Homo sapiens: one gene and its partners. Changing the gene in region 4 together with the main gene of any one other region gives a genetic interaction. Each region holds a gene or a part of one and is shown on either strand. Other genes may lie near its edges.

Region 1 (3,500 bases), on a different chromosome or scaffold from region 4:
CATGCTCAGCCAGGAAAAGTTTTAAAGAATGTAAGGTCTGACTCATTCCTTTTAGGTGGAAATGTAGACCAGTTGGGGTCTACAAATGTAAACTCCTCTTGGTTATTTGGACTTAGGAATAACCTGGCTGCCAAACAGCCTATAGGTGAGGGAACTTCTATGATGCTGACATGGCATTTGAAAAAGAGAAGATCCCCATTTCTATGGGAACCAAATGAAATCTTACACAAGTAGTGGCATTTGGGCTAGATCTTAATGTACAGATAGGATTTTGACAGTTTGGGTGACAGAGAAAAGAGCAAAGACATGATACATAGTTCAGGAAATACAGAGCTTTAAAGGTATGGCAAGCATACATCTAGAAAATAAGAGGTAGAAAATAAGAACAAAAAGGTATGCTGAGGCTATGAAGAACCCTGAGTTGGACTTCTCTAACTAGTCAGTACAGAACACTTAAGAAATTTTGAGCAAGGAGTACCATAATCAGTGTCCGGCTGTTGTACAAACTCAATAAATACTTCTTGAAAAAAATTAATAACTGAACATAAACTATGATTCAGAAATGATCATCTGAGTGTATAAACAGGATAGAGTAGATAAATGGAAAGTATTTCAAGAGATATACTAACAAAGGTAGAAGGGATTTAGAGAAACAATCACTTTGGACAAGAATGTATAGATGAAGAGAGACCAGTTAAGGGCTACTTGTGCTAGTTTAGGTAAAATAATACTGTTGTAAGGCTAATGACAGCAGGACTGTATGGAAAATAAAAGAAAAGCTTAATACTACAAATAAGGAATCAATAAGACTTAACTGGGAGAAAAGTGGCAATAAATACTTACTGACTACTTACTGTATATTAGTCACTTCAAAATTTCCAGTTAGGTGATCGGTGGAGTGACTACCAAAAATATATTATACTATATAATATTATTACTACACCTGGCCAGGCGCGGTGGCTCACGCCTGTAATCCCAGCACTTTGGGAGGCCGAGGCAGGCGGATCATATGGTCAGGAGATTGAGACCACCCTGGCTAACACAGTGAAACCCGTCTCTACTAAAAATACAAAAAATTAGCCAGGTGTGGTGGCAGGCGCCTGTAGTCCCAGCTACTCAGGAGGCTGAGGCAGGAGAATGGCGTGAACCCAGGAGGCAGAGCTTGCAGTGAGCCGAGATCGCACCACTGCACTCCAGCCTGGGAGACAGAGCGAGACTCCGTCTCAAAAATAACAATAATATTACTACTACAATAAATTATCTCATGAGATTATCTTCCACTCATCTCTCTATATTCCCACACTCTATACATCTCCCAACTACAATTTTATACTACTAATAAAATAATCTTAACCAAATTGTTTAATAAACCATGAAGTAAGCCTAACTAGTGAAAAGCACATAAGTAGTGGAATAGCCAGCCTCAAAACAAAGGACACTTCTAAAATCAAGACAAAGTAGAAAATCAGAGACTAAAATACCTCTAAGGTATTGAAAAATGAAATTGAGAACTCACATTGAGTGGCATAGGCCCAAAGACAATTTACTAATGCGCTATTGCTACACACAGAAAAAGAAGAAACTAAAACATCCTCAAATGCCAAATTGCTTTTAATTCTATTCTATTCAGTTCAAAAAAACACAAGTCCTGAGAGTATTTCTGTTTCAAAATCCAGTATAATATTGAAATAAAGTTTCCTACAAACACGCGTTTGCTATTTTATACCCTTGTCTGTTCTTTAGGATAATTTCAAGTAGGATTAAAATCAAAGGTATGTATTTTTAGGAATAATTAGTGGCTTTAACTTTTTATTCTTTAAGATATCCAACTTTTAAATTTTCGAAAAGACGTGTAAATTAAAGCAACCATACATAAATATAAAACTTGCTAATTAATACTTTGTGATTTTTATCAAATCAGGGGGTATAAATCTAATTAATCTACTTCAAAATAAGCATATGACAACTCTTTGCACCTCTGTGTACACATCTTTTAAGTTGTTAAAATTGCAACTTTAACTATAAAAGCTACAACCCAAAATATGTACACATACATACATGTATATGTATGCATGTATGTGTACATATTTTTTTAAACTGCTATCTATTGATGTTAAAATTTTAATATCCTTGAGGCAAAAAACCCAAACAGGTTTTATTAAAATGATGTTTCTTGGGAATAACCTTCCTATAACCAGCCATTTCATACAGTCTCTTACAGCTCTAAAATCCTTTTATTCTCTAATGAGAAAAATAAAAACAGAAACAGTTTCATTATGGTTATGCTAATAAATATTTTAAGTGTTATTTTAAAATATTTACCAACTGCGTTAGCACTCTGACATCAAAAGAATGACTAGTTGCTTGAGTATTTCCTCTAGAAGATTTTTTCTGAAAAAACACAAAAGTTAAAAAGCCAAACTGTGAAGCCTGTAAAACATAAAAGACAACTTATAAACTATTGTACATATACTAAGTAACTTAGAAAAAAACAAGTCTTTTAATTATTTTAATTTAGCTTTTTATATAGATATTACTTTATGTATTCTGTATCAATGTACACTCTTTAAAACAATTAATTCCATACTTTCATTCCTCTAAAGCAACAACTGGCAAACCACTGCCTGTGGGCAAATACCCACATTGCCACTCATCTTTGTAAATAAAGTTTTACCGGTATGCAACCAGGATCATTCACTTATGTATCTCCTGTAGCTGCTTTCATGCTACACAGTAGAGATAAAAATACAGCCTGTGAAATCTAAATATGTAGTATTTTTCTCTTCACATAAAGTTTGCTGATCCCTGCTTTAAAAAGTGAGAGATCACAAAAGTTCCGCTTCCTTCAGGTCAAAGCTATTTTAGAAGCCTCTATAAACCTCTTTTATAAAATGGCCATAGCTTTTGAACTGTCATCAGGGCAGAACAACATGTGGCCTTTGGTTGCAGGTCAGCAGTTTACAATTTGGAAATCAGATGAAATTCAGATGACACTCCTGTAAAGTTTCAGGATTCCAATTACATCATTTTCTTTTTTTTCCTGGACTTATTTTTTAACTTTTAAGTTCATGAGTACATGTGCAGATTTGTTACACAGATAAACTTCAGTCATGGGGGTTTGATATACGGATTATTTCATCACCCAGGTATTAAACCTAGTACCCATTATTTATTTTTCCTGATCCTCTCCTTCTCCCTCCTTTTAGTGTGTGTTTTTCCCCTCTATGTGTCCATGTGTTTTCATCATTTGGCTCCCACTTATAAGTCAGAACATACGGTATTTGGTTTTCTGTTCCTCTGTTAGTTTTCTTCTTTTCCTTTTCTTTTATTTTGAAATGGAGTCTTACTCTGTAGCCAAAGGCTGGAGTGCAGTGGCACGATCTCGGCTCAATGCAACCTCCACCTCCCAGGTTCAAGCCATTCTTCTGCCTCAGCACCCCGAGTAGCTTGTGCTTACAGGCACCTGCCACCACACCCGGCTAATTTTTGTTATTTTTAGT
Region 2 (3,500 bases), about 95 Mb from region 4:
ATGGTAGGACCTCTTACCCTTTCTGTCACTGAGTGATTTTCTGAGCAGTTTTGTTCCATCTCATTTAAAATGCAAGGTTTCCAATGTGGACTGTCCAGCATTCAAGATGTTCTGCTTCTGTTGATGGCAGTGGACACAAGAACCTCTTAGCTCACAGAGACCTCCCCCTTAACCCTACCTTGGGGTCATTTCAGGTGCTTCTCCCAAATTACCTCTCCTGGTTCCTACACAACACTCTAAAGTTCAGGGAACTCTAAAATGTTGGCCATGTGACCTATTTCTTGCAAACCATGTCACCTTTGCTTATGCATGTCTTTGTAACCAGCCATCTCAAATACATTGCAGACCATGCATTTTTCCCTGAGGTGAAAGGGAATTCTCATCACGTAGGAAAGAATTGCCCTGGAGTGCTGACTCCATTCTGGGACTGTTGCTGATTCATGGGTACAGTGTGCCACTTTTGAAAAAAATTCACTTAAAACAGACCAGAACGTGCCTCACACTGTAAGCCTCATTTTGCTTGCAGCATTTGCCTGTGTACACTGGAGAGGCCCGAGGCGCCCCTGCTCTGCGTTTTTGTTGCAGGTTCTTTAGCAAGGGTGTTGTCAGTGACTTCCCTGGGCAGCCAGGCTCTTCTCTGTAGATACCATGTTCCTCCTTCCCTCTTTGGGGAGGGCCTTTGCACAGGGACAATTCCTAAAATTGGAATCGTGTGTCTGCCAGGAGAAAGGCAGAATCACTTTCTTGCAAATTTCCGTCACTCCACTTCGCTAGTCATCCCCTCTGTGCTCCATTGAGGCCCAGGGTCTCTCCCTCCACATTTACCATCTAGCTTCAGGCTAACCGAGGACCTGGGCATGAAGAGGCTTTAGGGTATAGAATTATCAGACTTTATGGTGGTCTCTTATGATGAGGGCAGTGGTGGCAGAGTAAGAGTAACAGGTGCTCTGATGTGTGATGGGAGGGAGAAAAAGAGCAAATGGTTTTCCTTAAAGCCCCCACACAAGTATTCTCTCTTCATGAAATGCATGGAGTTTGTCCTCTGGCTTGCCGGGGACACTCGCCTGTGAGCCTACTCATTTCTGCCTTAGCTTTTGGGTGTGAGATTACAAGTCCTTCATCACTGACATGGTTAACACAGCTCACCCAGACGGGAATAGATAGTGTTAGGAGAGCTAATTTTGTAAACCCAAGCTTTTATAAAAGTGACATTGAAGTTATGTTAGATATGGAAATTGTCTGATACTCAGTGAGTGTGTGCCTTCATCAGAAACTCTTGACCTATCCAAAGCCCAGCCTTGTACACAGCAGCCTAGAGGCTGAAGGTATAGATGGTGCAGTTTAGCACTGCCAGGTGAGTAACTGTCATCTTGGAAGCGGAGTACCCTCTGGCACACGGAGCTCTGCTGAAGCAGCGCAGGGAGGTCAGACTCGGCCAGTAGACGTCTCTGCAGACACGCCTGTGGTCTGGGTGGTGGATTGCTGCTGTTGTCATGACGCTTATAACTGGAAACCGTTTCTTTCTTAGGGGAACCCAGAAGAACACACAATCCTAGAATTTGCTCAGTTAATTAAAAACCTTGTTGGTAAGTAGGATAAGTCATTTCCTGAGTAAAATCGACTGTGCCTGCCCTATCTGTTAATAACACCTTGACTAGAAAGTGGGTAATTAATACAAGCTAATTGAATTGGATCAAAGCAGAACTTTTTATCAGGAATACTTAAGTGTTTTCTAATTTTTAAGGAATAGAAAGATAAAGGAGGGCAGGATTGGTTTCTCCTCAGTTTTCGTTGCAGGTTTGCATGAAGTGGGAGGGAGGAGGAGATTTGCTCCCAGTGTTTGAGGCACGATTGTATTAGATCATCCTACATGGGTGACAACTATTGGATTTCCGAACTGGTCATGTCAAGCATAGAATTTCAGACAGCAAGAGACAGCAACCACCAGCTGCGTGCTTCAGGCAGGTTTGAAATTCTGTTTGCAATTCTGGTTATCCTGGCTGCCACCCACTGGGGGCAGTGTAGCATTGGGAGCACCCCATCAAGGTGGACTCTTAGGCCATGAGAAGGTCAGGTCTTCCAGACCAGCCCTGGATTGCAGACATAGAGTGGATGAGCCCTTGGCCTCATCTTCAGACTTCCTGGAGCTCTGAGGAGTCAGACTCTTGGAGGGTGTCTGTTGTCTGGGGTTGATCCTGAAATTTGAGTGAAGTCACAACCAGACTAGACTGGCAGGTAGGCCAAGGAGGAGTATGCCACAGTGTGTCCTGAGGTGACCATTCAGACCCCGCTTGGCTGGGTTAATTCCTCCAGTGTGCCCTTCCTGGCATCAGGCTGCCATTCATCGGCATTGGTCTAATCGACCCGGATGGCTGGAATCCTCCCGTTGCTCGTGGCAGTAGAAGCAGCGGTCTTCCTCAGACATAGCCTGCATCATCTGTGGCTCCCACAGCTGCTCCGATGCACTTCCCAGCTTTTCCATCCTGAATCTGTGTGTTCCTCCTGCGTGAGGAAGGGGCAGGCTCAGATCACAGCTCTGTGCCATCCACTCCTTCACACCCTCACTGCACAGAGTGAGGCCCGTGGGCCAACGCAGCAGCAGCATCATCAGATGTGTGTTAGAAATTCAGACTCTCATGCCCTAGCCCAGGCCCCCAGATCAGGATCTGCCTGTTGACAGGCTCTTCAGGTGATCCGTGCGTGCTGACGCTTGAGAAACACTATTTGAAACCTAAGGCTGGGGGGAGGGGCGTGCAGCTTCCCTGCTGTGCTTCTGTATATAGCTTTGTGACAGACCATCCTGAACCACCTGTGGTGGTGATTCGCTGCAGAGTCTGCAATGTGGCCTCCATGACACGGAGGCAGGGAAAGCCTCCACAGGCTTTCTTCTGCAGGTCTGGCCCACAGTCACTGGTGGGGCTGTGTACTGCTGGCCAGTGGGGCCTGGGCCCAGCAAGGATGTGGAACAGGCCAGCCTTTGCCGTCCTCCGAGAGGTCCCTCCAGCTGGGTGGCTGCACATCTTGGGTCTCAGGGCTGTCTAGGCTCCGAGCACCCAGGTATGGCCCACTTGGGGCATCCACCTCAGGGATGGCCCCACACCACGTTTGTGGTCTCACACCGGGGTCATGCTCGGTGGGCACGTCTGCACTTGTTACCTGGTGTGGGTGGTCTGCCTTGGAGCAACCCTCTTGTAGTGGGCGGTAACTCAGGCCTGTTGAGACAGAATAACCTGCCCCCCACCGAGCTCTTGCTGGGCGCCTGCACACAGTCAGCTTGGCCACAGCAGTTGCAGGAGCACTCCCTGGACTTCCACGCAGAACAGTCCCTCGGGAGCTCCGGGGCTTCTCAGAGAACTGCATTTCCACCGCCTGCACCCTATTCACACCACATATGGGGTTTGCCTTTGATGTGGATGGTAAGGCTGTGCTTACCCATGCTTTGTGATTCTCTCCTACCTTTTTTTTCTTTAAACATCTCAGGTAGCGGAAGTGAAATTCAG
Region 3 (3,500 bases), on a different chromosome or scaffold from region 4:
CCTCCCAAAGTGCTGGGATTACGGGCGTGAGCCACCACGCCCAGCCGCCATCCATACTTCCAAACGCTCCCAGACCTTCAGCCACATACTACCCTGCAAAAACTGTGCTCCCTTATAGCAGGGTCTGTTGCAAATGCGCCTTCTCCACTGCCCTCCCCTCTAATTGAGGTCATGATATGAGGAGCAGCATTTCTTAGGGACAGGCCCAGAAGCTATCCACCTCCGTAGCCCACCTTGGCACATCGGGTGCCTCTGACACAGCCCTCTAGAATTCATCCACGGCCAATGTCCACAGAGGACACCTCTTGGAAGTCTTGAGCAGTTTGAGATCTACCCACAGAGTTCCTAGAATCAAAACACCCACCGGAACAGGAGTGTTCCATCTACCACAGCCTGGCCAGCCAAACTGTCCAAAGAGACAGTCAGCAAAGGGGCTCGGTGGCCACTGAGTAGATTTCCCCAGATCCACACTCGCCTGAGAATATTCCCCAAGACAACACCACATCAGCTTATTACTGGTGTCCCCAACATCACCTGTGCTATTTTCCTTCTTCAGAATTAGAAGACACATCAAAACTGAAACACGGCATCTGTCGCCATAGGGTCGCTCATGGTTACTATGACCTAAATGGCTGGTCAATAAGTGCCAAAATCAGACACGCGTGAACCTTCAAGCAAGGTTTGGCTGTGTGCACTGAGGGGTGCCAGGTGGCAATTGGTCTGAGGGGTACCCTTCCTGGCTCACACATTTCCTATGAGTCCTGTCAATAATATGGCTCAGCCCAAGAAACTACGTCAATGAAAAGTAACAGATGCTTCTGAAACTGTCATAAAATCCCACGTTAAATAAGTATTCGAAGCCCAGTTTTTACCAAAGATGCCCACAGAACTACCCAAATTGTTTGGTGGAACTGGAATTCCATCACATAAATTACCTCACACAAACCCAAACACTGGCTGAAGGTTTCCATACTGAGAATTTTCTTTGTGGTAATAACATTTCTTGCAGATATTTGGCTCATAAATAAAACAAAAGCACCTAAGCTTGTCTTGATTTTAAATACAAAGTCACTTCATGAGGAATCTGCTGATTCCATACAATTCTTCAGAGATCAAGAAGTAATCCCTAGGAAAAACTGGGACATACCTACTGTTCCAACCAGGCAAGCCCACCCCTAGCAGGTGAAACGGCTGATTTTCATCTGTTTGAGGTGGGTTAAAGTGAACTCACTACCTCACTTCCTGTGAGTCACATGTACAGCCTTTGAGAGCCAGGCCACGCTCCTTCCTCGGCTGGATGAAAAGAGACTCCTTTGGCCTCTCAGTCACCTCTGGGTACTTTGGATCTGCTCAGAGAACTGGCAGTGGGCTTTGGGAGCCCCTCGAACCCCACTGCGAGAAACTATGCTGGGTCCCTGGCATCCTGCTGTGTCACAGACATCTGAACAGGGACTAGATTCACCACAAGCCATGGCCACCATCTGGATTCCGTAGTTGGATGGATAGTGGACACCAAAGAATTATGTCCAAGTCTGAAGCCCAGCCCCTGTGAATGTGACCTTTCTTGGAAATAGGGTCTTTGCAGATGTCATTAAGTGTAGGATCTTAAGACGAGATCCTCCTGGATTTACGGTGGTCCCAAATCCAATGGCAGGTGTCCTTATAAAAAGAGGAGAGGACAGACAGCACCACAGAAAGACGGAGACAGAGCCTGGAGTGCGGCGTCTATGAGCCAAGGAACGCCAAGGACTGCTGGAGGCCACCAAGAGCTGGGAGCAGGGGACGGCTTTTATCCCTTAGGGCCACCAGAGGGAACCAACCCTGCAGACATCTTGATTTAGGACTTCTGGCCTCCAGAATCATAAGAGACTACATTTCTGTTGTTTTAAGAAGCCAAGTTTGTGGTGATTTATTATGACTGCCCTAGGAAACCAGACAGATTTTAAACCCCAATTCTAAGGAAGACCAATTACTCCAAGGAGTTATTTTTGCCAATACTTCTCTGCCACCCTGAGACCCTGGAACAGTGGCCCTGAGGGTAGGGGAGGACTGGGGTCATGTGGCCACATTTCCCAGAAGGAAGCATGAAGGAAGGCAAATGCGGACAGGAGCACTTCCCTTCAGGGGAGCACTCAGACAGGGGAGCACTGAGACGGGGGAGCACTCTTTGGGTTCTCCCCAAGAATTAAGCGAATGCTTCCTAAGATTGTCTTCAAGTAACAAAGCTATCATTTCCCCCTTGACTACTCTCCAGGGGAAAAGAGTGAGTTAATAATCTTGGGTGGGGGAAAGCCACTCGGATAGGTTAAAGCCACTCAGAAAATGCTGAGAACAGCAAACATATCAAGAACAAGTATCCACTGGACGTCAAAAGGCCAGACAGGCACACTGTGGAACAAGATGAAACGTACAGAAACAAACTGAAATGTCTACCTTTTAGTCTTCAAAATCCACTATCCCATGAGGAAGTGGGGGAAGGAGACCAATGTAATGGAAAACACACAGCTCACGATCAATCATCACAGAACTGCAGGGGCACGGATGCAACCCCAGGATGCATTAACAGGGGCACGGCATGAGGAATGTGGGAGGGTGGAGCCAGGCGACAGGCAGCTCACGGCCTCAGCGGATGCTTGCTTTCAGTGCTGGGCACCAAACCTGGCTGCTCTCCCTGGAGATGCAAAAACTCAGCAGGAAGGAGCCCAGTCCCGAACTCCTGAAGGACTGACCAGCGGGCAGAAGGTTCGGGAAGAAAGCCTGGTTGCAGGCAAGGGGAAATACCTCCAGTCAGGGCAGGCTAACACGAGGGGATGGTCCTAGAAGGCAGGAGCAGCCTAGGCTGGAGGGAAGGAGGGCTCCAGGATAGCGTGGGGGCCAGGGGACATCATACCCTCCCAGCCCTGAGTTTCAGGGCTGCCCAGCCCCCTCCAGCTGAGCCACCTCATTTTCTTACTCTCAAACCATCCCGAACAGATGGGTATTACATTTGGCCAGGACTGTTTCCAACGACAATTCCAAATATAAGTCCAAATGCATTCCAGGCCTTCTGTGCTGCGGTTATTTTAGAAGGCTGTCGGCGCGGCCCCTCACACTGGGCCCGTGCTCATGGGGTACTGCTCAGCCCCTTTCCTGTGCAGTGCAGGGGTCCTGGGACCCCTGGAGGAGCGGTGGGATGGGAAATGTATGTTAGGGGGCATAGGGCTCCATCAATCCAGTGCCTCTGAAAGTGACCATGTCTCTCCCCAAGGGACAAAGGAGAGGCCAGCAGTGGCAAGGCCCTACTATGTAAAATCTGGATGATTACAGCCAAGACCACTGCTGGATTCATTCAGGGACACTTACAGCCAAGACCACTGCTGGATTCATTCAGGGACACTTACAGCGTGCTGTTCTGAGCCAGCGAGCAGAGGTTGGTGAGTTGATCACTATTAAAGCAGGAGCTGCTGCTGCTCCTCCCGCCAGGGCTCTGTGTGATTGCTTTCCGGGTTTAGTACCTGCAA
Region 4 (3,500 bases):
TGGGCTCTTTCCTTCTGGGTGGTCTCCCTGACTTAAGTAGATTAAGTTCTATAGAAAGGGATCTATAGAAGTCTAAAGAAAGGGATCCTTGGTAGACAGAACCAAAAACAGACTAATCCAAAAAGACAGAGAAGAAAACCTACATTGTAAAGGAAATGAAACAACAGATGAACTCATCTGCAAGGAAACCCCACATTCTTTTTCAGAATTCATCAGAATGTAAAGCATGTTCAGGGAAAATTACAACTAAGGGTTTAATGGCCTCAGTAGGAGGAATAGGGAAGAAGTACGTAGTAGAAGGAAGTGGGAAAAGCCCAACGACAGACAGCCTGACTAAATCAGGGAAACTTATGTCACAGAGTTAAACCTCCACCTCAATGACTCCACCCACGTGGCCTTGAACAAACAATGGAGAAAAGAAGTTTCTGTCCCTGTGCCACTCCTTTTTTCTAGTTGCTCTCCTACTTCAAAAGCCCCTCACTCACACCTGAGGGCAGAAACCTCTGCTGCCATCCTCCTAGACCCCAAGCCCTTTTCACAACATCATGAATGCTCACAGAACCTGCCACCAAGTTGTCAGGTTTGGATCACGTCTTCAGACCCTGAGCCCCATGGAGGTGCCAGAGGCCCTGACTCTCAATGCACTGCTACATGGCAGCAATTGCCATTAGTGCTTCTGATGTTCTCAGTGGAACATCTGGAAGTTACAGAGGATCTGGGGAAAGATCTCACTCCTGGGAGGGGGCTGGGTAGGAGGGGTAAGGAGCTCATGCAATGGGTGTGTTCTTAATTTCTTCCATTGAAACTCATCCTATTTTCTTTCAAAATTTAAGTTGCTAACCTATCTACTCTAAGTTTCACAGCTAAAACTTATGTTAAATCACCTCTTGTGTTCTTTATCTGTTCCTACAAGACAATATTTCAGGTTAAAATCAAATTTATTAACAAAAAATAAGTGGAAACACAACCCAACTCTAAATTGCCAATGGTTGCTTTGTATTTGTGTTCAAGTATATTTATATATTTATCTAGCTGTATTTAGTGAAAGAAGCACTGAATCCATTTATTTATATACATACAGTATCAGTCCACAAAAGATTTGAGCTATCTTAAAATAAAAACACATAAATAGAAAAATTTTATATGAAAACAAGAGGAAAAATTAGGTTAGAAATTTGAAATGGGCTTGCCCATTCATCCCAACTTCACTTAAATATGATTATTTGTAAATAACTGGAGAAATTAAATTTGCTAAGTTAAATTTACTAAAATTAAATGTGCTCAATGAAAGTGGAAAAATTGGCACTCAGACTATTTTACTTTTTTTTATCAGAAAGATAAATACAAATTTTATGTGTTCTGGACAGCCCAAATCTATACTCCACTCGCAGGCCAACAGTGCTTTAATCTCATCATCAGCTTCCATGAAAAGGAGGCCAAGTTCTTTTCTACTGTATTAATGAATAGTCACAATTTTGTCAACAGTTGTTATTATAAATTAAAGTATAAAATATATGCAGTAGAAGGAATTATAAAAACACAAAAATAAAATCATTAAACACAAGACTAAGAAATGAGATATTATACAAATTCACTGACATATTTGAAAAAGAACCAAACAGAACTACTAGAAATGAAATGCTTAATTCTCTATTTTTTTACAGTCATCTAACTTTTGTAATTCATAAGTATCAACAATATAACAATGCCACCAAGAGTTAACAAAATGAGATAATCATTTTAAAAAACATTATCTGCTCAGTTTGTTTCTTCCAACCATCACACCCATGACTGCTTTCTGCCAGTCACGCACACTCAGCAAGAGCACTGGCATACTGTCTTCCCTCTGTGCTAACGGGGGTAGAGTTTGGCAGCAAAATCTAGATTACTCAGTGGTAGCATCTGGCACATTGAAAGAAAATATCAAAAGGAAACTACAGATCCCGTGTGGAGCCAGCCCACTCAGATGCAACAAAATAGCAGCGTGTGTGTATGCTGGAGGCAGTTCACTGTGGCTAGAGGTGGTGAGTACTTGAGAAAGGAGAGCATACTAGGGAGAGGTAGGGCTGGGGTCCGAATAATCACCACTTTGTTGGGGTTTAAGCCCAAGCCAAGAAATTAACATAAAAATTACTCTTAGACTAGGGAAGCTCATAAGGTCTTCAGTTTTTTGTAGGGAAAGGGTCCCACTGTGTTTCTCAGGCTGGTCTCAAACTCCTGGGCTCAAGTGATTCTCCTACCTCAGCCTTCCGAAATGCTGAGATTACAGGTGTAAGCCACCACACCCAGATGAATGAGTTCTTTAGAGCCCAGTAAAAGACTTGTGCCCATCAGTTACCAACTCCACCCTGCCTGAGCTGCTGGACTCAGTGTCCCATTCGCCTCTTCTGAAGAGTCACTTGCTTTCACCTTACTCAGATGAAGGGGCAAAGGAATATCCAAGTCCAATTATTTTTCTTCCCTGCTTTCAAATACCCAATCCTCCTGACTGATCAAGATACCATTAGCTTCATTTCTCCCCCCAAGTGTTTTCAGCAGTTTACTTTTCCCTAGCCAGACAAAATTGGCACCTGTGTGTGTTTTCTAGAATTTTAAAGGAATTCCCCTTAACTCCCCTCACAGGCATATTCTAATTTAATGACTATATCTCCCCTTCTTTTCCACACCCACACCCTGGTACAAACTGTCCCTGACCTTCACAAGAGCAACTAAAACTTGAGACCAATTTCTGTTTCATTTCTCTTGCAGAAGTCAAGAGACTATCGCCAATTATTATTCAAAACATCAACAAAGCTTAGGCAAGTCAGAGTTATCTTTCACACACTAGCTAACAGGAGCATCCGGTTCTGGAAACAGAAATATTCCAGGCATTTTTTGTAGAAATTACACTTAATACTGGAACTAACAAAACTGCTGAGAGGACTGGAGGAAGGAGCTCTGGGGTGGGATTCTAACAAAGACTCCTGGGGCTGCTGCAACAACCTTGCCTCAGCCAGGGAAGTGAGGATCAGGAGGCTGCCACTAGAACTGAGCTCAAAGACCCTCTGACAGTGGAGACCCAGTGATCATGTAATGCCCAACCTTGTTTTTACTAACGCTGTTTTTAGACTCTCCCTTTCCTTTAATCACTTAGCCTTGTTTTCACCTGAATTGACTCTCCCTTAGCTAAGAGAGCCAGACAGACTCCATCTTGGCTGTTTCACTGGCAGCCCTTCCGCAAGGACTTAACTTGTGCAAGCTGACTCCCAGCACATCCAAGAATGCAATTAACTGATAAGATACTGTGGCCAGCAATATCCGCAGTTCTCAGGAATTCGTCAGATTGATAACGCCCAAAGCCCCGCGTCTATCACCTTGTAATAGTCTTAAAGCCCCTGCACCTGGAACTGTTTACTTTCCTGTAACCATTTATCCTTTTAACTTTTTTGCCTACTTTACTTCTGTAAAATTGTTTTAACTAGACCCCCCCCTCCCCTTTCTAAACCAAAGTATAAAAGAAA
Region 5 (4,191 bases), on a different chromosome or scaffold from region 4:
CACCAGGAGAAGCACCTCCCAAGGAGGATCTATCTGAGGCCTAGAGGCCTGGAGCTTGGGGTGAGGAAGAGGGAGGGATGGACAAGTCTGAAAACCTCACAACTCCTTACCAAGGCTCCAGGTTGGGGGGATCGTAGGATTAGAGGGGCTAAGGATAGTCAGCGAGCTGGACTGGGGTAAGAAAGAAAACCAGATGTCCTAGGGCCTAGCCCTTGTAGTCAGAACCACCAGGGAACAGCAAAGAACAGAGTGATGGGAAAGTGACATGAGAAGGCCTGGAGGCTGATTCTGATATAGACTCAATAAAGTTTTTGGATGGAAGCAATTGCTTTTTCTTGTCAAGGGGATGGGGGCCTGGGAGAACTGATTTCTGTCTGATGGAGCAGCTAGGACTCCAAAGTTTGGACCCTGGCTCGACCTGTGCAGCAACAGGAGCCCACATCTGTAAGGATCAGAAAGCAAGAACCCAATGTAAGAAGCAAAGGAAAACAAGAGGCCCCTCCAGGTTGAGATTCTTTATTCTGGAGGTAGGAAGGGGGTCAGCATGCTCAGGTGGGAAGGGTCCAGCCCAGCTCCTCCAGCCCCCCAGTGCATGCCCAGCCCCAATAAGTTACCCAGTTACTCAGCTGCCCTCCCTCCTGGGTCCATCTGTCCTTCTGTTCCACCCTAGACAGGGCCAACCTGACTCAACACAAGGGCTGCTTGTCCCCAGCCTGTGGGCAGTGCCACACGGCAGGCTAGGGGAGGGGTGAAGCAGCAGGACCATGCCCTGGGCCTGGAGGGGCAGAGGGGCCACTTCTGGCTCCAAGGGTCAGGACTTGGAAAACCACATCCTGGGCAGGCCTGGGGCCCAGTCCCACAAGGTCTGTGCCTGAAAAGAGGTGGTAGTTGGGGTGGGGCCGCCATCACACCTCAATTGCTGGGTCTGAGCCCCGGCCCTGCCGCTGCAGCTGCTCCTCCTGCTTCATCTTGGGCTTCTCTGTCCGAGTATGCCACACCAGTACCTGTGCCAGGAGGGATGCAGTGAGAGCCAGGCCCAGCTGCAGCCAGGCCTCTGGGTCCCCGAGCCTGGAATGGATTCTCTAACCCTATCGACATATACAGTATAGGCTTCAAAGTGTAAAGGGCAGGGTGGAGGAAGACTTAGTGCCTCTAAAACCGGGCCTTGGCCGGGCGCGTGGCTCACGCCTGTAACCCCAGCACTTTGGGAGGCCGAGGAAGGCGGATCACGAGGTCAGGAGATTGAGACCATCCTGGCTAACACCGTGAAACCCCGTCACTACTAAAAACACAAAAAAATTAGCCGGGCGTGGTAGCGGGTGCCTGTAGTCCCAGCTACTTGGGAGGCTGAGGCAGGAGAATGGTGTGAACCCGGGAGGCGGAGCTTGCGCTAAGCCAAGATTGCGCTACTGCACTCCAGCCTGGGTGACACAGCGAGACTCTGTCTGAAAAAAAAAAAAAAACAACAAACAGGGCCTTATTCCTTCATCCTCTCTGTGCCACATGGGTTCCCAGAACTCGGGGCAGAGTGGCAGGAGACCACTTTCCCCCGCTAGTTCCCAGCTTCCCCTTCAGTAGAGTCAGCAAGGCTGATCAGAGATCTGGAGAGTCCCTCCTGGTTAAACCACCCATTCCCAGGGTCTCACTGTACCTCCCCCATCACCTGTCCATCCAAGAGCCAGGTTTCTATGCCCATCTCCATTCCCTTACCCGAGTGCAGTTGGCAGCCCGTGGCTCCAGGTCCTTGGGATCCACAAGGTGGCTCAGAAGACTGCTCTCCAGGTGGCCCCGGGGAGCGGTGGAATCAAATTGGGCATTGGGCTTATCTAACAGCAAGGGCAGGGCCACGGCAAATCCAGCCATATCCACAGGGAAGGGCCTGCTGGGCTCCCATGCTGTGTGGAAGCCCACTACCCGGCCGTCCTGTACCTGAGGGCCCTCGAATCGCAGGCCGCCCACCAGCCCCACAGGCCACACTGAGACACCACGGGTCCAGCGCATCTAACGGAGGTCGGGAGAGAAGAAACAGAGGGGTGGTCCGGGGAAGGGAGCAGCAGAAAGAGCCACCTGGCTCACTCTGCCCCACTGCTTCCAGCCCCTCACCCAGCAGCCAACGGCAACACTGCTAACCAAGGTAACGAATGAAGCTGGCCGCACCTGGTCTCTTGCCCATCCCCATCCTGGTGCTCACCTCCTCAAACAGCTCCCGGCTGTAGGTGTTGTCATCGTCAGCAAAGTAGACGACTCCTTGGGTCCCTGGTGGTGGTGGGTCCTTCTCCCCACCCACAGCACCCCCTCTGCCCCGGAGCCAGTCCAGGGCCTTGTTCCGCTGCTCGACACCACGGGGATGAACCCAGCCAGGCTCGCCCTCCCGAAGCCGCTGGGCTTTGGGCGTGAGGACCACCAGGTGTGTGAAGAGGAGGCCAGAGGCAGCCAGCAGCCCTGAGACCAGCGGGGTGGGACCCTCAGCATCCTCCACCAGCAGCCAATGCAGCCGGGGCACCAGGCTCAGTGTCTGGGACAGTCGTACCAGCTCTGCCTTCTGTACCAGCCTGCAGGGGAGAGATGCAGCACAAGGAAAAGGGGCAGGCACCATTTGCCTGCTCCAGCCAGGGCAGACAGCTTCTCCTGGGCCACTGCCTGCGTCTCCTGTGGCCCTTCCCAACCAATGCCTAAACTCCCTCTTTCTTGCCTGTCAACTTCATGCTAACACTCACCTGCCCTGTTCTTCTGGTCCATGTCCATCACCCACCTCAACTCCAGAGCTCAGGCTGTGGGAGACTATAAATTAAGGGCACAGGGCCGGGCATGGTGGCTCACACCTATAATAACACTTTGGGAGGCTGAGGCAGGTGAATTACCTGAGGTCTGGAGTTCCAGACCAGCCTGGCCAATATGGTGAAACCCCATCTCTACTAAAAAAATACAAAAATTTGCTGGGTGTAGTGGCACATGCCTGTAATCTCAGCTACTTGGGAGGCTGAGGCAGGAGAATCGCTTGAACCTGGAAGGAGGAGGTTGGAGTGAGCTGAGATCGCACCATTTCACTCCAGCCTCAGTGATAACAGCAAAACTCCATCTCAAAAAAAAAAAAAAAAGGCCGGGCATGTTGGCTCACGCCTATAATCCCAGCACTTTAGGAGGCCGAGGTGGGCGGATCACCTGAGGTTAGGAGTTCGAGACCAGCCTGCCCAACATGGCGAAGCCCCGTCTCTATTAAAAATACAAAAAATTACCCAGGCATGGTGGCAGTCACCTGTAATCCTAGCTACTCGGGAGGCTGAGGCAGAAGAATCGCTTGAACCCGGGAGGCGAAGGTTGCAGTGAGCCGAGATTGTGCCACTGCACTCCAGCCTGAGCGACAAGAGCGAAACTCTGTCTCAAAAAAAAAAAAAAAAAAAAAAAAAAACAAATTAAGGGCACAGGCTTTGGGATCAGGTAGATCTGGGTTTGAAATCCAGTTTTGTAACTTATTATGTGAGACAATTTGGGAAAATGGCTCAATCTCCCTAAGCCTCAGTTTCCTCAACTGTAAAATGGGAATAACAGTACTTTATAACAATGTTGTTTTAAAGATTAAATAAGAGCTGGGGATGGTGGCTCACACCTGTAATCCCAGCACTTTGGGAAGCTGAGGCAGGTGGATCATGAGGTCAGGAGATCGAGACCATCCTGGCTAACACGGTGAAACCCCATCTCTACTAAAAATATAAAAAATTAGCTGGGTGTGGTGGCGGGCACCTGTAGTCCCAGCTACTTGGGAGGCTGAGGCAGGAGAATGGCGTGAACCCGGGAGGCAGAGCTTGCAGTGAGCCAAGATCACGCCATTGCACCCAGCCTAGATGACAGAGCGAGACTCCATCTCAAAAAAAAAAAAAATACAAAAGTAAAATACAAAAAATTACTGGCCAGGCATGGTGGCTCACACCTGTAATCCCAGCACTTTGAGAGGCCGAAGCAGGTGGAACACGAAGTCAGGAGTTCCAGACCAGCCTGGCCAACATGGTGAAACCCCATCTCTACTAAAGATACAAAAAATTAGCCGGGTGTGGTGGCGCATGCTTGTAACCCCAGCTACTCGGGGGGCTGAGGCAGGAGAATTGCTTCAATCCGGGAGGTGGAGGTTGCAGTGAGCCGAGATCGTGCCATTGCACTCCAGCCTGGGCGACAGAGTGAGACTCCATCTCGGGA
Region 6 (3,500 bases), on a different chromosome or scaffold from region 4:
CTTTTGGTCAAAGCCATTCAACAAGTCTCTAGGAAGTTCCACACTTTCCCACATTTTCCTATCTTCGTCTGAGCCCTCCAAACTGTTCCAACCTCTGCCTGTTATGCAGTTCCAAAGTTGCTTCCATATTTTCAGGTATCTTTTCAGCAGCTCCCCACTCTACTGGTACCAATTTACTGTATTAGTTTTTTTTTTTTTTTTTCGTGCTGCTGATGAAGACATTCCCAAGACTGGGCAATTTACAAAGAAAGAGGTTTAATTGAACTTACAGTTCTACGTGGCTGGGGAAGTCTTACAATAATGATGGAAGGCAAGGAGGAGCAAGTCATGTCTTACATGGATGGCAGCAAGCAAAGAGAGCTTGTGCAGGAAAACTCCCCCTTATAATAACCATCAGATCTTATGAGACTTACTCATTATCATGAGAACTGCAAGGGAAAGACCTGCCCCACATGATTCAATTACCTCCCATTGGATCCCTCCCACAACTTACGGGAATTCAAGATGAGATTTGTGTGGGGACACAGCCAAATCATATCAGTAATATTGTCCTTATACAATGAATTGGAAAGTGCTCCTTCCTCTGCTGTCTTTAAAAAGGGTTTCTGAATAATTGGTATTAATTCTTCTTGAAATGGTTGGTATCATTCAGTGGTAAAGGCATCTGGGCCTCAACTTTGTTTTTCTGGTGAAAACATATACATGTATTTAGAATTAGCCAGCTGGATTCAGTTTAGATGATCCCAATTTTGTTGGCAACATCCAAGACATGGTAATCAGGAGCCAGTCGAACATATGCCTTCTTCTCTCCATCAGGCCTAATCAGGGTGTTGAACCTTGGCCACATAAACATCATAGAGCTTCTTCACAACCTGTTTGATCTGGTGCTTGTTGGTTTTAACATCTACAATGAACACAAGTGTGTTGTTGTCGTCTTCTATCTTCTTCATGGCATACTCAGTGGTCAGTGGAAGCTTGATGATAGCATAGTGGTCAAGCTTGTTTCTCCTGGGGGTGCTCTCCAGAGTCTCAGTATCTTGGGCCACCGGAAGGTGGGTGATGTATGGATATTCTTTTTTTCATGGCAGTGGACACCTTTCTACACTGCCTTCTTGGCCTTCAAAACCTTTGCATCGCTTCAGCTTTAGGAGGGGCAGGAGCTTCCTTCTTTGCTTTCAGTGCCATCTTGTGAAAACGACTTTTCTTTAGGAGTAGTTTTGATAACTAAGTCAAAATCTTTACTTGCTATATGTCTATTCACATTGTCTCTTTCATCTTGATTCAGTTTCAGTAGTTTGTGTCTTTCTAGGAATTTGCCCCTTTCATCCAAGGTACCTAATTTTTTGTTGTACAGGTTTCATAGTATTCTTTTATAATTTTTTTATTTCTATATAATCTGTAGTAATGTGCTCTCTCTCATTTCTGATTCTAATACAGTCATGCCTCAGTTAATGATGGGAACTCATTCTGACAAGTGCATCATTGTGCAAACATCATAGAGTGTACCTCCACAAACCTAGATGATATAGCCTACTGCATCCCTAGGCTATGTGATATAGCCTATTGCTCTTAGATTACAAACCTGTACTAGTAGACAATTGTAACACAATGATAAGTATTTGAGTTCCTAAACATGTGAACATAGAAAAGGCCCAATAAAAATATGGTATAAAAGGTTAAAAAAGATGATGTAGTTGTCTAGGGCACTTACCATGAATGGAGCTTGCAGGACTGGATCTTGTCTGGGTGAGTCAGTGAGTGGTGAGTGAATGTGAAGGCCTGGGACATTCCTGTACACTACTATGGACTTTATAAACACTGTACATTTAGGCTACACCAAATCTGTAAATTTTTTTTTCCTTCCTTCAATATTAACTTCGTGTAACTATTTTACTTTATAAACTTTTTAATTTTTAAAACTTTTTCACTCGTTTTAACACTTAGCTTAAAAAACAAAAACTGTACAGCTGTACAAAAAATGTTCTTTCTTTATATTCGTATTCTATAAACATTTTTGTATTTTTAACTTAAACTTTTTTTTACTTAAAAATTTTTTTGTTAAAAACTAAGATAGAAACACAGACATTGGCCGGGCGCAGTGGCTCACACCTGTAATCCCAGCACTTTGGGAGGCCAAGGCAGGCGGATCACGAGGTCAGGAGATCGAGACCATCCTGGCTAACACAGTGAAACCCTGTCTCTACTAAAAATACAAAAAATTAGCTGGGCATGGTGGCAGGCACCTGTAGTCCCAGCTACTCGGGAGGCTGAGGCTGAGGCAGGATAATCGCTTGAACCTGAGAGGCAGAGGTTGTAGTGAGCTGAGATTGCGCCACTGCACTCCAGCCTGGGTGACGGAGTGTGACTCCTTCTCAAAAAAAAAAAAAAAAAGAAACACAGACATTAACCTAGGTCTACACAAGGACAGGTTCATCAACATCACTGTCTTTCACCTCCACATCTTGTCGCGTTGGAGGATCTTCAGGGGCAGACACACATGGAGCTGTCAACTCCTATGTCCTCTGATAACAATGCCTTCTTCTGGAAAACTGCATGAGGCTGTTTTATAGTTACCTTTTTTATTTGTAAGTAGGAGTACACTCTAAAATAACATTACAATGTATAGTATCAAAAATACATAAATCAGTAAGTCATTTATTATCATTATCAAATATTATATATAGAACTTCATTATATGTGCTATACTTTTAACTGGCAGTGAAGTAGGTTTGTTTACATCAGCATTACCACAAACACCTGAGTAACGCATTGACTTATGACATTACTAAGCGATAGGAATTTTCCTCCTCCATTATAATATTATGGGACCACCGTCACATATGTGGTTCATTGTTGACCGAAACGTCATCATGCAGTGCGTGACTATAATTTGAGTCTTATTTTTTCCCTGTGCTAATTTTTTAACACAATTAGTTGTGCCAATATATCGATCTATTTAAAGAACTAGATTTTGAGTTCATTAATTTACTCTGTTGTTTTTCTGTTCTCCGTCTCATTAATTTCTGCTCTAATCTGTATTATTTTCTTCCTTCTGCTTGCTTTATCTATAGTTTGCTCTTCTTTTTCGAGTGTCTTAGAGTGGATTATTAGGTTATAGATTGAGATATTTCTTCTTCCTTAATAGACATTTAGGAAGGATATTTCTTCTTCCTTAATAGACAATTTCTCTGTAAACTTCAGCTACGTTAGCTGTATCCCATAGGTTTTGGTATGTTGTGTCTTCATTTTCATTCGTCTTATTTTCTGATTTCTCTTTTGATTTCTTTTTAGACCAGTTGGTTATTTAGGAGTGTGCTATTTAATTTTTATATAGCTGTGATGTTCCCCAGTTTCTTCCTGCTATTGATTTCTAATTTTATTCCATTGTGGTAGGAGAGTGTATTTTGTATTATCTCTATCCTTTTAAGTGTATTGAGGTTTATCTTATGGCCAAGCATATGGTTTATTTTGGAGAATGTTCTATGTGCACTTTAAAAGAA
Region 7 (4,269 bases), on a different chromosome or scaffold from region 4:
TCTATTCGACAATACCGCCATCGTCATCATGGCCCGTTCTCAATGAGCTGTTGGGTACACCTCCCAGACGGGGTGGCGGCCGGGCAGAGGGGCTCCTCACTTCCCAGACTGGGCGGCCGGGCAGAGGCGCCCCCCACCTCCCAGACGGGGCAGCGGCCGGGCGGGGGCTGCCCCCCACCTCCCAGACGGGGCGGCTGGCCGGGCGGGGGCTGCCCCCCACCTCCCGGAGAAAAACTTCAAAGGTTGTGCAGTGAGTGAGACTGTTAGCTAGCACCTTCACCTCAGGCTACTTACCAAGCATTGGAAAGTGCACTGTCCAAGATTCCAGAACATATTCTACTTACTTTGACCCCTTAGACCTCATTCTGTTCTTCTACAAAGTGAAAAGGTGGCCTTCTCATTAATTCTCAAACCACCTGCATGGCAGAAATCACCAGAACTCCTGTTTACAGAGGATCTTTATATATTATTACAGATGTAATAAATCAGAATTCAAGGAGTGGTTTCCAAAAATCTGTATTTTTAATTTCCTAGGCGACTCTGTTATCACCCAGGTTTGGAACCTACCAACCTAGCCAGTTACAATAACCCCATTTTCTTCTCAACTTTTTTTTTTTTTTTTTCCGTCTGTAAAATGGACAGGCATTTGCAAGTACTGTTATGTATCACTGAATCACAGGAACAAATTCTGAGAAATGCTTCCTTAGGCAATTTTGTCACTATGTGAACATCAGAATGTACTTGTACAAACCTAGTTGATGTCACCTACTACAAACTTAGGCTATTTGGTATGGCCTATTGCTCCTAGGCTACAAACCTGTAGAGCATGTTACTGTACCTAATACTGTAAACAACTGTAAAATGATGGTAAGTACTTGTGTATCCAAACATAGATAAAGCACAGTAAAAATATAGTAATATGGGACCACGGTCATATATGCGGTCTGTTGTTGGACGAAACATCACTACTATGTCTGTGGCAGATGACTATAAACTAATTTCTCTGACTTATGGTCATTAATCATCTTTGCCCTTTTTTTCTTTACTACATGTATTATATACTGACTCAAAAGGTGTGCTGATTAAGAGCTCTAATAATAAGAACAGACAATATGGTTTACAATATAACAACATGTATTTTCATTAGATATTAATTATAAACCAATAACGCATGTAAACTGAATACAATACTTCAAATCATTCTGCACAAAGAAATTACAGATCACATTTTTTTAATAACAAAATGTCTACTTGTTTAATAAAATGTTTTTAGGAACTTACAATGTTCAAAACCAAAGAATAAAAATATTAAATATATCACTTTATGGCACAGGACAACATAAATTTATTTTTGTAACACAGCAGGCAAATTTTTGTGCTAGAAACAGGATGGAGAAAAATCTAAATTAAAGCAAAAAGTCAGGAAATGGGTGTTCATAAATTCCTGCTTAACTAAGACTCAACATTTATTGTAAGAAACGGGGCCTCTGAACATCAGATTTTGTTTATAAAAATAAAAACTTCCTCCCTGTCTCTGCTAAAAATACAAAAATTAGCTGGGCGTGGTGGTGCATGCCTGTAGTCCCAGCTACTCGTGAGGCTGAGGCAGGAGAAGCCTGGCGACAGAGAGTCTGCCTCAAAAAAAAAAAAACAAAACAAATAAATAAAAATAAAAACTTCCTCAAACATCAGATTTTTTCACCTCAGCAAATACTTTTTCCTTTGATAATTCATAATCCTGCTGTTCATTTGTCACATTTATGAATATCTGGTAATTTCATAAACAACTACCAATGGTACACTTCAAATGCTGATTCTGTTGAATCTTCTTATTTTTTTTCCCCCAATGAACTTAGGGCCTATGATAGAGAAGATACTGAAACATGCTAAGATAATAATTGGTCTTAGAAAGACTTTACAGCAAGTATTTAATGAAAGCCACTACATTTCCAGCTCTAAAAAGAGCCAGACACAATCCCTGCTTCCAGAGTTCACCATTCAGAATACAGGAGGTCAAGCACTGATTCTGAATCATTAATGGGCTTTGATTTCGTCTTTCAAGATTTGCATAGATACTGATTTCTTCCGGAAGGGCAAATAAAATCTTCCCTTACACACATCATTCTTTGGATTCTCATAAGGGGTATTTTGAAGTCTGTATGTTGACAAGGCCAGTAGATACTTTGTTTTCTCTAACTGCCTTCTTCTACTTAAGACTATGTCAAGTATTTTGTTTTCCCTTTCAGTTCTCCCCAACATACACCTTCTGCAGTTTTGTCTATCCAGTCCGCTTTTCTGTAACACTTTGCTACCCCCTTCTGTTCCCCTTCACTGTTTCCTCTGTTGCTTTCCTCCTTAATAGAAGCCTGGTGATCTGGGCTTCCCCATCTTTCCTTTCCTGGCTTCTTATTCACATGGGTGACTGATCTTAGCACTTCCTTAAAAGTTGGGTTTTCAATAAATATAACTCATCAGCACTTCCGATCTGTATTTCCTTGAGCTTTTTTTTGATCTTCAGATCTGTGCAATAATACTCTGTTCCTGAATGCTATTTAGAAATACTATCCTCAAAACACCAGTGGTTTCTTGAAGCTACTTGTTTTAAATGTTGTATCAAAAGAGATTGATAAAGGAATGTATAACTCAGCAAAGGATGCTTCTACTGTAAATTCCCACCATTAAAAGTACTGGATTCTATAGGTCCACCATTAAAAGCTGGTATGGGACACCAATTTATACACATAAGGGTTAGATTAAAATTTTAATTTTTTGGTTGATATTAAACTGAAATTTATATAACTGAGGTCTGAATCTTAAAAAAAGTAAATGATAAAAATTTAATATAGTTAACTGTTCACTGATATGTCTATTCACTTCATCACAACCTATATATTTAATTAAAAATCAAATTATGAGTCTGCAAATCAGATGCTATCAAGCAAATTGCCATCCAGGGTCCATAATTCTTTTTATATTTTTATCTCAGATGAATATATACGATTCAGTAAATTTTAATGTTCCAAATTGTTCTAAAAAAAAAAATTATCAAAAGCTTCCAGTTAACAGTTGGCTAATTCATTTGCCCCCAACGAACTACCTGTTTGTGTTGTGAGGTAGCATCAAAGACTATGATCTTCTGTGACAGTAGTAGCCTTAATTCATACGCATTCCCTCTTCATAGGAAGAGTATGGACAACAAAAAGGGACAGATGAGTCACCTTTCATTAATCATTGACTCCTGGTGTTTTCATAGTATGTTAAATGCCTGATTTCAATTTTACAACAACAAAAAATACCAATATTTATTCTGAAAGGCAATCGTATGTTCCAAGTAGCAGATATTAACAACTTCCAACACGATCTCTAGGAATAATCCGCAGTTCTGAACCATGTTTTAGAAAAACATTTCCTATACAAACAAACAAAACATAAAGTTAGATATCTAAAAATCAAGTTATCTTAATATTCTGACAATTATTAAATATAATAAATGATTTAGTAAACAGTAAAATGGGTACAAAAGCTCAAGCATCATGAGACCCCAATTCCAAGCTTTTTAAGTCTTGTTCCTATTCTCCTATCTTCACAATCCAACATACGCTTAAAATTTAAAATAACACCAGCCATGAAAACTCTGACGAATACTTTCATCAAGTAACTGTGAATAATTTAATCATGAATACTTCCTTCAATACACAATAATATATCTAAGGACAGGAAAAAAAATGTAAATTACTACAAGTGACAAAAATTTAGATACCCTGACATATTTGGGGTCAATTGCCTGATGAGATTTTCTTCATATCAAGGATATGCACATTCAATTTTTAAAGATAATAAAACAAGCAGTATGTTAGAGTTAGCAGTAATTCAAACTACTGTAAAATATTGAAAGTTTCTCGATTAAGAAAAAAAGAAACCTTTGTCTACTAAGTTTAAAGGCATCCATACAATAAAGTGCCTCACGATTTTCAATAAACCTTTTTAATAAAATTATATATTAACAACTACTGAAGTAACAAAAATTTGCAATTTTAAATCACTTCATTTTCTTTATGGCTGAATTTCAACTGCAAGGCCTGTGAAAACAACATAATTTTGTTACAATAAAGAAATACTTTAGAATATAATTTAAAAATAACTACTGCTCTAGAATGAGGTTACATTAAAGCATGCCTAATTTTAAAACTTTAGATTATAAGCCTAAGAGATTACATTTTAAAAATATAAAACTAATTTTAAAAAAGTTTTAGACTTCTTTTTATAAAG

The links.
Region 1: changes in CFLAR (region 4) and ODR4 together harm fitness less than expected from each alone (positive genetic interaction), as found in Homo sapiens cells (one large-scale study listed by BioGRID).
Region 2: changes in CFLAR (region 4) and UXS1 together harm fitness less than expected from each alone (positive genetic interaction), as found in Homo sapiens cells (one large-scale study listed by BioGRID).
Region 3: changes in CFLAR (region 4) and CHST15 together harm fitness less than expected from each alone (positive genetic interaction), as found in Homo sapiens cells (one large-scale study listed by BioGRID).
Region 5: changes in CFLAR (region 4) and B3GAT3 together harm fitness less than expected from each alone (positive genetic interaction), as found in Homo sapiens cells (one large-scale study listed by BioGRID).
Region 6: changes in CFLAR (region 4) and TNFRSF10A together harm fitness less than expected from each alone (positive genetic interaction), as found in Homo sapiens cells (one large-scale study listed by BioGRID).
Region 7: changes in CFLAR (region 4) and UFM1 together harm fitness less than expected from each alone (positive genetic interaction), as found in Homo sapiens cells (one large-scale study listed by BioGRID).

What each region holds. Positions count from the first base shown.
Region 1 is NC_000001.11:186,392,838-186,396,337, reverse strand, and holds part of ODR4 (protein odr-4 homolog), read right to left. Parts: intron 2,392-3,500; coding exon 2,323-2,391; intron 1-2,322. UniProt on the Homo sapiens protein: May play a role in the trafficking of a subset of G-protein coupled receptors.
Region 2 is NC_000002.12:106,096,802-106,100,301, reverse strand, and holds part of UXS1 (UDP-glucuronic acid decarboxylase 1), read left to right. Parts: intron 1-1,528; coding exon 1,529-1,586; intron 1,587-3,480; coding exon 3,481-3,500. UniProt on the Homo sapiens protein: Catalyzes the NAD-dependent decarboxylation of UDP-glucuronic acid to UDP-xylose. Necessary for the biosynthesis of the core tetrasaccharide in glycosaminoglycan biosynthesis.
Region 3 is NC_000010.11:124,024,099-124,027,598, forward strand, and holds part of CHST15 (carbohydrate sulfotransferase 15), read right to left. Parts: intron 1-3,500. UniProt on the Homo sapiens protein: Sulfotransferase that transfers sulfate from 3'-phosphoadenosine 5'-phosphosulfate (PAPS) to the C-6 hydroxyl group of the GalNAc 4-sulfate residue of chondroitin sulfate A and forms chondroitin sulfate E containing GlcA-GalNAc(4,6-SO(4)) repeating units.
Region 4 is NC_000002.12:201,126,164-201,129,663, reverse strand, and holds part of CFLAR (CASP8 and FADD-like apoptosis regulator), read right to left. Parts: exon of another isoform or gene 144-3,500; intron 1-143. UniProt on the Homo sapiens protein: Apoptosis regulator protein which may function as a crucial link between cell survival and cell death pathways in mammalian cells. Acts as an inhibitor of TNFRSF6 mediated apoptosis.
Region 5 is NC_000011.10:62,614,796-62,618,986, forward strand, and holds the end of B3GAT3 (galactosylgalactosylxylosylprotein 3-beta-glucuronosyltransferase 3), read right to left. Parts: intron 2,553-4,191; coding exon 2,192-2,552; intron 2,002-2,191; coding exon 1,711-2,001; intron 1,446-1,710; coding exon of another isoform or gene 1,391-1,445; exon of another isoform or gene 1,005-1,390; coding exon 906-1,004; 3' UTR 501-905; downstream 1-500. Other genes in the region: ROM1 (rod outer segment membrane protein 1), read left to right, coding at 1-44. UniProt on the Homo sapiens protein: Glycosaminoglycans biosynthesis. Involved in forming the linkage tetrasaccharide present in heparan sulfate and chondroitin sulfate.
Region 6 is NC_000008.11:23,204,603-23,208,102, reverse strand, and holds part of TNFRSF10A (tumor necrosis factor receptor superfamily member 10A), read left to right. Parts: intron 1-686; exon of another isoform or gene 687-1,195; intron 1,196-3,500. UniProt on the Homo sapiens protein: Receptor for the cytotoxic ligand TNFSF10/TRAIL. The adapter molecule FADD recruits caspase-8 to the activated receptor.
Region 7 is NC_000013.11:38,359,851-38,364,119, reverse strand, and holds the end of UFM1 (ubiquitin-fold modifier 1), read right to left. Parts: intron 4,080-4,269; coding exon of another isoform or gene 4,054-4,079; exon of another isoform or gene 3,410-4,053; coding exon 3,342-3,409; 3' UTR 501-3,341; downstream 1-500. UniProt on the Homo sapiens protein: Ubiquitin-like modifier which can be covalently attached via an isopeptide bond to lysine residues of substrate proteins as a monomer or a lysine-linked polymer.